Homo sapiens: one gene and its partners. The protein of the gene in region 2 interacts with the protein of the main gene of each other region in a pairwise test. Each region holds a gene or a part of one and is shown on either strand. Other genes may lie near its edges.

Region 1 (4,219 bases), on a different chromosome or scaffold from region 2:
TTCTTGTCACAGTATGCCCATTTGCAAACTGTCCAGCCTACAGCCTAGGCCAAGGAACAGGACAAAACCTGGGATCCCGGGCAGGAGAGTTTGGTTTCCACCAAGTTTTACTTGGTTTATCTATTTATTAAACCCAAGGCTGACGGCTGCTTCTTGCTGCTGTTTATTAATAACGATTCCCAACACAGGCTCCTCAGGGGCAGCCGGGGAAGCCAGTCCCAGGGCACAGGCTGGCATCACACTCTGCCTCTGAGGGACCCCAGGCAGTCTGAGGCAGCCCTGGGGACATGAGTGCTTCCTTTCCCAGCCCCTTCCCTGGAAAGTGAAACCCATCGTGGCTTCCTCTCCCAGTCTTGGGGCTGCCGGGCTCAGCTTCGGTGGGGGCAGAGGACACAGAGGATGGACATCAGAATTGGGAGAGGCTCCAACATCCCCCAGGAAACTGAGGCCCCAGGGAGGCAGGAAAAACCAGCTCCAGGTGGCTGGCCGAGTTGGAGGCGGAACTGGGACCAGAATCCAAGTTTTCCCAGGGCCTCCTGAGGACAGGAACCTTTCCCCTGTGTTCCCTGGGAGTGCAACCGTTGTTATTGTCGCCAAGAATGGAGGCGGTAGCGTCAGACCTAGACTTTCTTGCACAGTATTGTGGCTCTTCCAGCAGCAGGCGGGGAGCCAGCAGGGCACACGGACCCAGCCATCGTGACCTAGATTCTGGGTTCAGGGGTAGAGACTTGTTTGCTAGTGGGTCGCACTGAGTCAGGCTCTTCTGTAGCACACCCCAGGTAACAGAGGTGCTGGGCGGCCTGAGCAAAGGGACAACTTTTTGCCACCCATGCCAGTGGGCAGTGGGTGCAGACACTCACAGCACAGGCACCTGCTGCGATGCACGCGGCGCCCACGGAAACCCGAGGCTGCCAGCCGCCGCCCTGGAGACCCCAGAGACAGCGGCAGATGCGTGTGCTTCAAGGGGCAGCGTGGCTGCTGGGGCGCTCCCTAAAGGGCAGTGGCACGGGGTCGCGCCGCGAGCAGAGGGGCGCGGGTGGGCGCGCAGGAGTTAGCGAACTGACACGGAGGCGCCAGGCGGACGCACGGACGCACCGAGGGCCGCAGGGCCGCACAGCCGGGCACACATCGTCGCGCAGCGGTTCAGGCTCGGGGGCCTCCTCGGCGGAGGCGGCCAACTCTCACCCTCAGCGCGGGGAGGGGCGGGCGCCGGGGGCGGGGCGGCGCCGTCCGGGCCCTCCCCCTGCCCCGCCTCGGGTCGGCGTCCTTAGCCGCTGGCGCGTTGTTGGTTTCGGGTTGTCAGGCAGCGCGCGAGGCGGCGGGCAGCTAGCAGCTGGCGGACGCGACCCGGAGGCGGTGGGGGTGCGGCTGAGCCATGCCCGGTGGCGCGGCCTGAGCCCCTCCACCTGCTGCAATCATGAAGGACAGCGGGGACTCCAAGGACCAGCAACTCATGGTGAGACCCTTTTAGACCCTCCTCCCCACCCCGCTCCGTGGTCTACTTCAGTCGGCCTCCAGCGACAGAGTCCTGTCCCCTCGCCGCCACCCCACTGAGAGGACAGGCAACGACCAGGGCCGGGACTCTTCAGAGCAACTTTCCCCAAGTCCTGCAGGATGGGTGTCAAGAAGGGACCATGGCCTTTTTAGACTTTCCTGAGCCTGAAAATTACCCCAACTTCAACCCCACCCCCACCTTTCCACCCTCCCATTGGGAGATCCCGCCCCCAAAGCGTGCGCAGATGAATCTCGGCTCTCTCATCCAGAAACGCCAGGGGCAGGGAGGGCTTGACCTAACTGCCCCCAGAAGGAGGGTGGCGGTTTCCCAGTTAATCAGAGGCTGCTCCAGCCCTGGTGAGGTCAGGAGTTTAAAGGGATGTGGGGGTCACCAGTAGGAAGACAAGGGCCCCTGGTGTCAGGATGGGGCCCGGAGTGCCTGGTTCTTGGGCTGCAACACGGATGCTGCCCAAGTCCGGATTCGAAGTAGTTCAGAGAAGTGCTAGATGCAGCTACCATGGCCCCACAGAGCCCTGGGGCCTGGGACAGATGGGGAGGTGAGAGTGGGGGCTGTGGAGGGGAAGGTGGAATTCCTGATCATCAGTGGTGCCTGGGCCAGAGCAACAAGGGAGATGACTCAGTGACCTCGAGGCCACCACTAGGCTGTGGGTGGGTGGGTGTCTCTCTCAGCAAGCCCCTTCCTCATCCCCTAATTTTTGAGGTCTGGGGAAGGGCCCTCATCACCAGAAGGTGGGCAGTAAGGTAACTGGAGGATAATGTTGCTCCCAGAGTCCCCTACCTCTCAAGGGTGGGCTTGCTTCTCTGAAAGGAGCCTCAGCTCCAGCCCCCAAGCAAGCCCTGGGCTCTAGGACATCCTCTCTGGCTTTTTAGAATGTGTCTCTTTGAAAATCACTGGCCTTGGCATGTATTGTGTGCCCCGGGGAGCAGGGATGAAGGGTCCTCCCCTCCCGCCAGTGGAATTTGGCTGAAGATGCCACTAAAGGTGACCCGTCAGGTAGTGTAGTTCCCTCTGAAAGTGCCTTTTGTTTTGTTTTGTTTTGTTTTTCTTTTTTGAGACGGAGTTTCACTTTCTCACCCAGGCTGGAGTGAAGTGGTGCGATCTCAGCTCACTGCCCCTCAAGTTCAAGCGATTCTCCTGCTTCAGCCTCCCGAGTAGCTGGGATAACAGGCATGCACCACCACGCCCAGCTAATTTTTGTATTTTTAGTAGAGACGGTGTTTCGCCGTGTTGGCCAGGCTGGTCTCGAACTCCTGACCTCAGGATCCGCCCACCTCGGCCTCCTAAAGTGCTGGGATTACAGGCGTGAGCCACCACGCCAGGCCTGAAGGAGTCTTCACTCGGCCAGAGGGCCGTTCATTCTATCCCCACACCCAGCAGCTGTTGCCCTTTGATCAGCACAAGACGTGCTCCCCACTCCACCCTGTTCTTTAGGGAGATCCACGCACAGGATGAGACCCATTTCACACTGGCTGGAGGACAGGCAGATGGGGGTGGGCGCTCTAGGTGACACTCTCCTCGGTGTAGGAATGTGGTCACAGGCTGTTGGGATGATGGGGGACATTCCCTGCTCCATCCCACCTACCAGGCCTCATCCCAGAGCCGTGCCTGCACCTTCCTCTGCAGCACGTCATTCGCGGAAACACAGAGAGGCTGCTCCAGTGCCAGGGCCCCAAGTTCAAGCCCAGGGGAGCTGCGAGTGTTTTATTTGGGCGTGAGGCTGAGGCAGGCTGGAGGAGCAGACAGCTCTCTCCCCTGGGGCTCTCCCGGAGGCCAGGGCTCCTGGGGAGACTCATCAACTCAGACACAGTCCAACACTCTGTGGACCTGCTGCCCTCTGACCTAGGTAGAGTTTTACTTAGGACAAGGGAGGCCTGAGATGGCTGAATGCTAGAGAAGCCAGGGGCTTGCTTGAGGTCTCTCTGAGGCCCAGCATGGTCCTCTCCCTCTAATCCCAGGGGCTTGGTTTTCCCTCCCAGGTGGCGCTTCGGGTCCGGCCCATCAGCGTGGCAGAGCTGGAGGAAGGAGCTACCCTCATCGCCCATAAAGTGGATGAGCAGGTATGCAGGGCTCTGCAGCAGGAGCTGCAGGGCAGAGGTCTGCTCAGATGGCTCAGCTCACCTGGTGAGGGCAGAAAGGGCCCCTGTGGCTTGCAGCACCCTCCTTCCTCTACTCACTGAACTCTTGGCTGTGCTGTTGATGACATCACCAAGGAAGCTGGGGGCTCTTCTTCCAGGAAGCCTTCCTAGATTGATCCAAGGACAACTGGGAGCTTCCCTAGCCTGGGTGGGCCCTGATCCTTTACCTTTCACATGCTCATTGCTTGACTTTCCCACCCTAATATGCCTGCTGCCCACAGAGCACATATATATATGGTTGAGAGCTAAAGCTCGCCTCTAGGGTGTAACGTGTGGCAAAATCCTCGCTCTCTGTTTGCAATCTTGGTCCTCATGTCACCAGGATGAGGAAGGCAGGGCACACGAGGCAATAAGTGTGTATCAAGTACCAGCAGCATGCTGGGTACTGTTCTAGAAACTGGGAAACTGTGGTGAACAGAAAAGGCCCTGTCCTCTCTCCATTACCTTAAGTCTAGTGTGAAGAGATGAGGCATTCATCAAAGAATTGCATCACAAACAAACGAGTTTGCAGCTAACAAGGGCTTCAAAGAAATGCTTAGTGGCATGAGAGTAGGTAAGAAGGGGATAA
Region 2 (3,648 bases):
ATTGGTAAATACCTAATTTTCTTTATAATCTGGCCACCCTTTTATTTGTTGAAAATTGAACTACCCATTTGAAACCTCAGAAAAGCTTGTTAAAAAGGACGGCTCATTCAGACTGGCCAATTAGAGTCTTAGTGTACTTGGCACTGCCTGATTTCCAGCAGCATCTCTGGTCCTCACCCTTCCTTCCAGCCACACCCTACTTTCCACATCCTGGACTTTGGACATGTCCATTGCTCTACTGTTGTGCCTTTTTCTGCTTGGAGACGCCTGTATGTAAAGCCTGATCTATCGGGCAGAGCTTCTTCTTCGTTATTCTCTTCCTAAGGCACTGTATTCATGACTTTTGTGTAGCACCTTTACTGTAGCCATCAACACACATGTCTCATCTCTACCACAAGATCTCTGAAAATAGGCCTCTGTGTGAACTAGTCACCTCTGTGTCCCCAACCCTTGAACACAGTATGTTACTCAGCCAGTGCTCTTGGTAAAAATGAATGTGAGGTTTTAAAACAGCAGTGTGCCAGTATTTGTTTTCTTGGAGTAATCAAAGTAATATTCTGACTAATGTTTAGTTGAATTTTGGATAAAGCTCAAAATAAGCATTGGATTCCCGTAGCTTTGGGTTTCTAAACCCTGGAAGTAATGAATGTGACAAATGTGAGACAGGATATTAGAGTTAATAGTGGGTAATCATTCCATTATTTGTGATCCACTGCACATCTGCTACACTGTACATGTTAGATGCTACAGTGACACAGAGCTATGGATCTTGCCTCAAAAAAGCTTATGGATGAGTAGCTAAGGTCAGCAGATAATGGTGACAATGCAGAATAGAAAGGGGTCAGAGGCCGAGTATGGTAACTCATGCCTGTAATCCCAGCACTTCGGGAGGCCAAGGTGAAAAGAGTGCTTGAGCCCAGGAGTTCAAGTCCAACCTGGACAACATGGTAAGACGCATCTCTCCAAAAAAAAAAAAAAATAGCCAGTCTTAATGGCGCTTGTCTGTGGTCCCAGTTACTTGGGAGACTGAGGCAGGAAGATCACTTGAGCCTAGGAGGTCAAGGGTACAGTGAGTTGTGTTCACGCCACTGCACTCCAGCCTGAGCGACAGAGCAAGACCCTGTCTCAAAAAGAGGGTCATGTCGGAAAAGGTCCTATTGAAAGAGGTCTGCCTAAGAGCTCTTGAAGGTTATTTAAAGGAAATTGTTACTAGTGGAGGGTAAGGAATCTTCTATTTTTATTTTTGTGAGACAGGGCCTTACTCTGTCGCATAGGCTGGAGTGCAATCGCGTGATTGTGGCTCACAGCAGCCTCCAACTTTTGGGGCTCAGGCAATCCACCAGCCTCAGCCTCCCAAGTAGCTGGGATTACAGGCATGTGTCACCACTCCGAGCTAATTTTTTTTTTTATCGTTTGTTTTTTTTTTTGTAGAGACAAGGTCTCTCTTTATTGCCTAGACTGGTCTTGAACTCTTGTCTTCAATCAATCCTCCCGCCTGGGTCTCCCAAAGTGCTAGGATTATAGGCGTGGAAAACTAAGGGAATGGTGTGGTAGATGGGCCCTTCAGGCGGAGGGGTATCACATGAGCAGGGAATAGAAAGGTACTGAATCTAGATAAGGCCTAGCAATCGGCTTGATTTGGCTGGAGTCAGAGGCTTTTGGCAGGAGAGGGATGAGTGGCAAAGTGCTATTGTGGCTAGGGGCTAGAGTTCTCAAAAGTCTAGCTAAGCCTAAAAGAATATTACTGAGGGTTGGCCAGGTGCGGTGGCTCACGCCTGTAATCCCAGCACTTTAGGATTCTGAGGCAGGCGGATCACAAGGTCAGGAGATCGAGACCATCCTGGCTAGCACGGTGAAACCCTGTCTCTACTAAAACTACAAAAAAATTAGCCAGCCGTGGTGGCGGGCGCCTGTAGTCCCAGTTACTCAGGAGGCTGAGGCAGGAGAATGGCATGAATCTGAGAGGCGGAGCTTGCAGTGAGCCGAGATCGTGCCATTGCACTCCAGCCTGGGCGACAGAGCAAGACTGTCTCAAAAAAAAAAAAAAAGAAACTGCTACAAGTATTGATTTGAGTGTTAGAAATTTTAATGAGTGGTTGAATTCACAGGTGTGATACCTGAGGATAATGAGGATTGGCTGTGTGTAGTCTTGCAGCCGTTGCACCTAGTTATGGAAAGTAGAGGCCAGTGAGAATCTTGTTTCCACAAATTTCACCCTGTTTTTTTTTTCATGGTAGTATTCATGCCTGATATTATTGATGAAGAGACTAGTATATTTTTGTGGCCTTTTGGAAAAAGGAGTTGGTCTGACATTGGAACAAGCCTACCAGCCAGAATACTTTATTCTAGCCCCAATTAATGTTTGATTTATTAGGAGCCTAAGAATGTGATGAACTTTGAAAATTTTTACCAATAATTTAACTGTAAGAAAAGTATGATCCATTAAAAATGTTTACCTGGCCTGGTGCGGTGGCTCACGCCTGTAATCCCAGCACTTTGGGAGGCCAAGGTGGGTGGATTACCTGAGCCCAAGAGATGGAGACCAGCCTGGGCAACATGGTGAAACCCCTCTCTACTAAAATATAAAATATTAGCTGGGTGTGGCGACATGCGCCTGTAGTCCCAGCTACTCTTGAGGCTGAGGCAGAATTGCTTGAACCCAGGAGGCGGAGGTTGCAGTGAGCCGAGATCATGCCATTGCTCTCCAGCCTGGGCAACAGAGTGAGACTCCATCTCAAAAAAATTTAAAAAAAAGTTTATCATCAGGCTCTTCATTTTTTGGCTGTTGATTTTTTTCCTTATTTTGAGAGTAGGCCTCAAAGAGCAGGAAGGCTATTCTTGATTAGGCGTACTTCAGGGCACAGTGACGCATCCACTGCCTCTTTTAAATCTCATCTGAGTCCTTATTTTTATTTTTTTATTTTTTTAAAGATAGGGTTGCACTTTGTCACCCAGGCTGGAGTGCAGTGGTGCAATAGCCCATTGTAACCTCGAACTCCTGGGCTTAAACAGTCCTCCCACCTCAGCCTCCCAGGTAACTAGGACTACAGGTGTATACCATCATGCTTGGGTAATTTTTATTTTATTTTATTATTTTTTTTTGAGACGGAGTCTCACTCTTGCCCAGGCTGGAGTGCAGTGGCGCGATCTCGGCTCACTGCAACCTCCGCCTCCCGGGGTCAAGCGATTCTCTTGCCTCAGCCTCCCAAGTAGCTAGGACTACAGGCACGTGCCACCACGTCTGGCTGATTTTTTGTATTTTTAGTAGAGACGGGATTTCACTGTGTTAGCCAGGATGGTCTCCATCTCTTGACCTCGTGATCCACCTGCCTTGGCCCCCCAAAGTGCTGGAATTACAGGCGTGAGCCACTATGCGAGGCCTAATTTTTAAAATTTTTGTATACAGATGGGGTCTTACTGTGTTCCCCAGGCTGGTCTCACACTCCTGTGCTCAAGCGCTCATCTTGCCTCATCTTCCCAAAGCGCTAGGATTATAGGCTTGAGCCACTGTACTATCCTGCAGAACAAAGGACAGGGAGATTAGACTAAAGGATGGAGGCTTGAGACATCATACCACAAGCAAGGATGTGTATCATAACAGAAATTAATTGCGGCCAGGCATTGTGGCTCACTCCTGTAATCCTAGCA
Region 3 (3,648 bases), on a different chromosome or scaffold from region 2:
AATTACTTGTGGGACTTTGCTCAAAGCAGCACAAAGGAAATGACACAGACACCAACCCACCCCTTGCCTTTCCACCTCCCTAGCCTGGAGATGGGAGAAGGGGAAAAGAAGCCAAGAAGCAAGGACCATCCAACGTAGACCTTTGCATTCACCAGACAGCACATCCCACATACTAACTACTGTGTGTCAGTGGGACACTGCGAATAATGCTTGTTGGGAAGTCAGGAGAGCGATGTTCTGGCTCTTGGGTGCTAAGTAATGTGTGACATGGAAGATCCCAAGATCCTAAACTTTGTATCTTAGTTCCCCAATGAAAAAAAAAGATAATTATCAATTTCCAACTTAATTCATAGTGCAATTATGAGGAACAACTGAGGTAATAGATTTGGAAATATTTTGCAAAGTGCATAGCATCTAATTCACGTAAAAAGATTGTTATCATGAATCTCTCTTAGCTAGAGAAGAAAGGTATTCTTGTGCTGTTTAAAACAGTAGCCAATAGTCACATGGCTGTTGAACATTTGAAGTGCGGCTAGTCAGAACTGAGATACGTTGTAAGTGTAAAATACAACTCAATTTCAAAGAATGTGTAATTTATTACATTAATTATATGTTAAAATGATAATATCTTGAATGTATCATTATATGAAATATGTCAAAATTAATTTTGCCCATTTTTTAACTTTTTAAGATGTGGCTACTAGAAAATGTAAAATCACATACATGATTTACATTTATGGCTCACATTCTATTTCTATTGAGCAGAGCTGGTCTAGACAGTCACTTTCAGGAAGGTCAGAATGACCAAGTCCCTCTATCTTAGGCAACCCAAAGCAGCCTACTAGTTTCAGAAAAGAAGGACCCTGGGATACAGGTCTTTCATGAACCCTGCTGTTTTGTGTCCCTTGACCTCCCCTTCTAAAGGCTGTATATTTTGTTAGAGAAGGCTTTCTTTCTTATGAATTTGGGAACGGAAAAGATCGGACTTTCAGAAATAGGTGCACATGAGTTGGGGGAAGGGGAATGGAGAACATTGGATTGCTACAACAATGACTTACTGTTGAAGAATAGCAAACTAATTATCACATTACAATTCTCTCAGCCTACCAGGGTGGGTAATTAGCTTCCTTCGGGGGCTCCTTAAAAAAAAAGAAAGAAAGAGAAAGATTCCTTCCCAGCAACTAGCTATTTTGTCCTTTTAATTCAATTCAATTCAACTGGGGACAAAGTTACATAAAGGGAAAATTAACACATTAATGGCTGAAATGGAAACAGAGAGAGACATGTCTTTCTTTAGTTCTGAAGCCAGGCTTACCTTCGCTCATCAAAATGGCAAGTCCGGGGTTAATCAAAGTGTGGCACTGCATAAGCTTTTTTCAAATATCCCATAGGAGCCTCCTGGGCTCAGATTTTATCTTTTTTACCACAGTTCCATGGCCTGATTTAAAGACAGACATAGCTAATATGACTTGGATTCTAAGAGTCCATCAGTTCTGCCCGGTGAAAATGAGCTCCTTACAGAAATATTATATAGACAACAAAATCCTTACTTAACTTGAGTTTAGGGCTTAGCAACAGACATTCCATTTGGGGCAAACTCAATATTGGCAGAAGTGAGGATTGAACTTGAAGGAAATAAAGTAGAAGGATTTGATTTATTCATGGGGCAGAACAGGAAAGGGACAACTTAAGGTCTAAAGACTAAGGAATAAAGAATCAAATTATAGCACAAATTACAGACCAAATAGCATCAATTTACTAAACCTCAAGTCAGAATGAACCTAGCTATTAACTGAACCATGAATTTGACCATATAGATATAGATATAGATATCTAGCAAACTTGTTCAAACCAGAATCAAACCTGTATATTTTCCAATGAAGTAGAACATCAAAACATTCCTTAAACTGAACCTGAACCCAGCCAATGTTTCATTTGGTTAGAATTCCTGCTAAAGAGGAGCACTTTTGGTCTTTCTTTTGTCTTCAAAGGAAGACAATCTTCCATTGGTCTATCTTCCATAGACTTGGATTCTAAGAGTCTTTTGTTACTCAGGTTGAAAGAAGTTTTATAAATCTGTTCACAAGTTCCACATCCAAGACTGACTAACACAGGATGGAAACAGGGTGGTACTACCATGTCCTAGAAATGAACAAAGCCTGTTTGCCCCACCTAACCTATTATCATTTGGTTAAGTGTATTTTAACCTCTACATGTCCCTGGCTAACAGCTAAAAAAAATTGACATTTTATGAAACAATTGTTACTTTTTAAATCTCAAATGTCTGTAAGGAGAAATTTATGCCATATGAAAAGTATGCACTGTCTATAGCTTATCATTCTGGTTATCCGCTTTTGTTTCTGTGGGAGCTATTTTACAACTCTGTAAATTGTAAATAACTGATAACAATGGAAAATTATCCTTATCTATAGAGATTCAAATTCTGAATTATCTAACGATGATATCGAATCTCAGAAAAGGCAAAAATCTTGCACAAATCACAAAGCTAGGAAGTGGCGTAGCTGGGACTTCTTAGAGAGTCATCTCCCTCTCCTCTTTCATATCTTACCAATCTCCTCGTCCCAGCTTGGAATGGTCCTGAGTGAGGTGGAAGTGGAGAGGGAAAATGGGTATAGCAAATCCAAACTTTAGCTAAGGTACTGTTTTGCCTGAGATCAGCTTTGCCCTTATGGAATGTTCACTGAATGGATGCCTTGGACTAGGCTTTAAACAAACTCCGATGAAATGGGCTTGGTTATGTTACAGCCCTTCAGGGTTGGAATCATGAGGAGGCTATAGACACATTATCTGAGATGAGCCCAAACATTCTGGCAATTGCCATAAAGATTGTCTAGACTAGGGTTTGACTTCATTTATGTTCATGAACATCAGAATATAAATGAATATTCCAATTCTTTAAACTGAGAACACCATGTTAGATTGGTGGTAGGAAACAGAGGTTATTTGTAATTCTGCTATCTGCCAAGCAAATTCCCCTCATACACCCAAATTGGTTACTCTGTTTATCGTGTGGGTTGGAATAAATCCTCATTTCTTTTTTTCTTTTTTTTTAGTGAAGGAGTTATGAAAAAGCAAGAGCAGATCTTGCCTGCCAAAGCCTGGGTTGGGATCTCTTATATTGTAACTCCCTTCAATTTGACAAATATTCATTGAGTTCTAATATATTCACGTTATATCTCTGATATTTTAGAGTCACTGAGGTGCATATTTTGTAGAAGGGAAATTCTGTAGGTGGCATTCTGGAGATCAATGATTTGACATAGATTTAAACTGTGTAGTTATAGGTAGTTGTGTTCATGTGTGCTGGGTAACCAATTGGATGCAGTCTGCAAAGAGGATCTATTTACTTCAAGCTGATACCACCTGAGAATTTCTAACTGATGGGTTATATGGTGGTTTAAAAACAGATCTACAAATTCTTCAACACTCTTTCCTTTAATAAATAGAGTCTGGTTCCTCTCTCTTTGAATGTAGGTTGGACTTAGTGACTGCTTCCAATGAATATAATAAAGGAGAAGTGACAGTGTTGGCTATGGAGACTAGATCACAAAAGGCAATACATCTTGTTCTTTATTCATTCTCTTGGATCACAAACTAAGGTAGGAGATCTTGCCAACAGCCATATTG

Evidence for each region.
Region 1: the proteins of RBM5 (region 2) and KIF19 interact in a two-hybrid assay, tested with the Homo sapiens proteins (one large-scale study listed by BioGRID).
Region 3: the proteins of RBM5 (region 2) and DCX interact in a two-hybrid assay, tested with the Homo sapiens proteins (one large-scale study listed by BioGRID).

Annotation. Positions count from the first base shown.
Region 1 is NC_000017.11:74,324,933-74,329,151, forward strand, and holds the start of KIF19 (kinesin-like protein KIF19), read left to right. Parts: upstream 1-1,293; 5' UTR 1,294-1,417; coding exon 1,418-1,456; intron 1,457-3,492; coding exon 3,493-3,573; intron 3,574-4,219. UniProt on the Homo sapiens protein: Plus end-directed microtubule-dependent motor protein that regulates the length of motile cilia by mediating depolymerization of microtubules at ciliary tips.
Region 2 is NC_000003.12:50,095,361-50,099,008, forward strand, and holds part of RBM5 (RNA-binding protein 5), read left to right. Parts: intron 1-3,648. UniProt on the Homo sapiens protein: Component of the spliceosome A complex. Binds to ssRNA containing the consensus sequence 5'-AGGUAA-3'. Regulates alternative splicing of a number of mRNAs.
Region 3 is NC_000023.11:111,325,147-111,328,794, forward strand, and holds part of DCX (neuronal migration protein doublecortin), read right to left. Parts: intron 1-3,648. UniProt on the Homo sapiens protein: Microtubule-associated protein required for initial steps of neuronal dispersion and cortex lamination during cerebral cortex development. May act by competing with the putative neuronal protein kinase DCLK1 in binding to a target protein.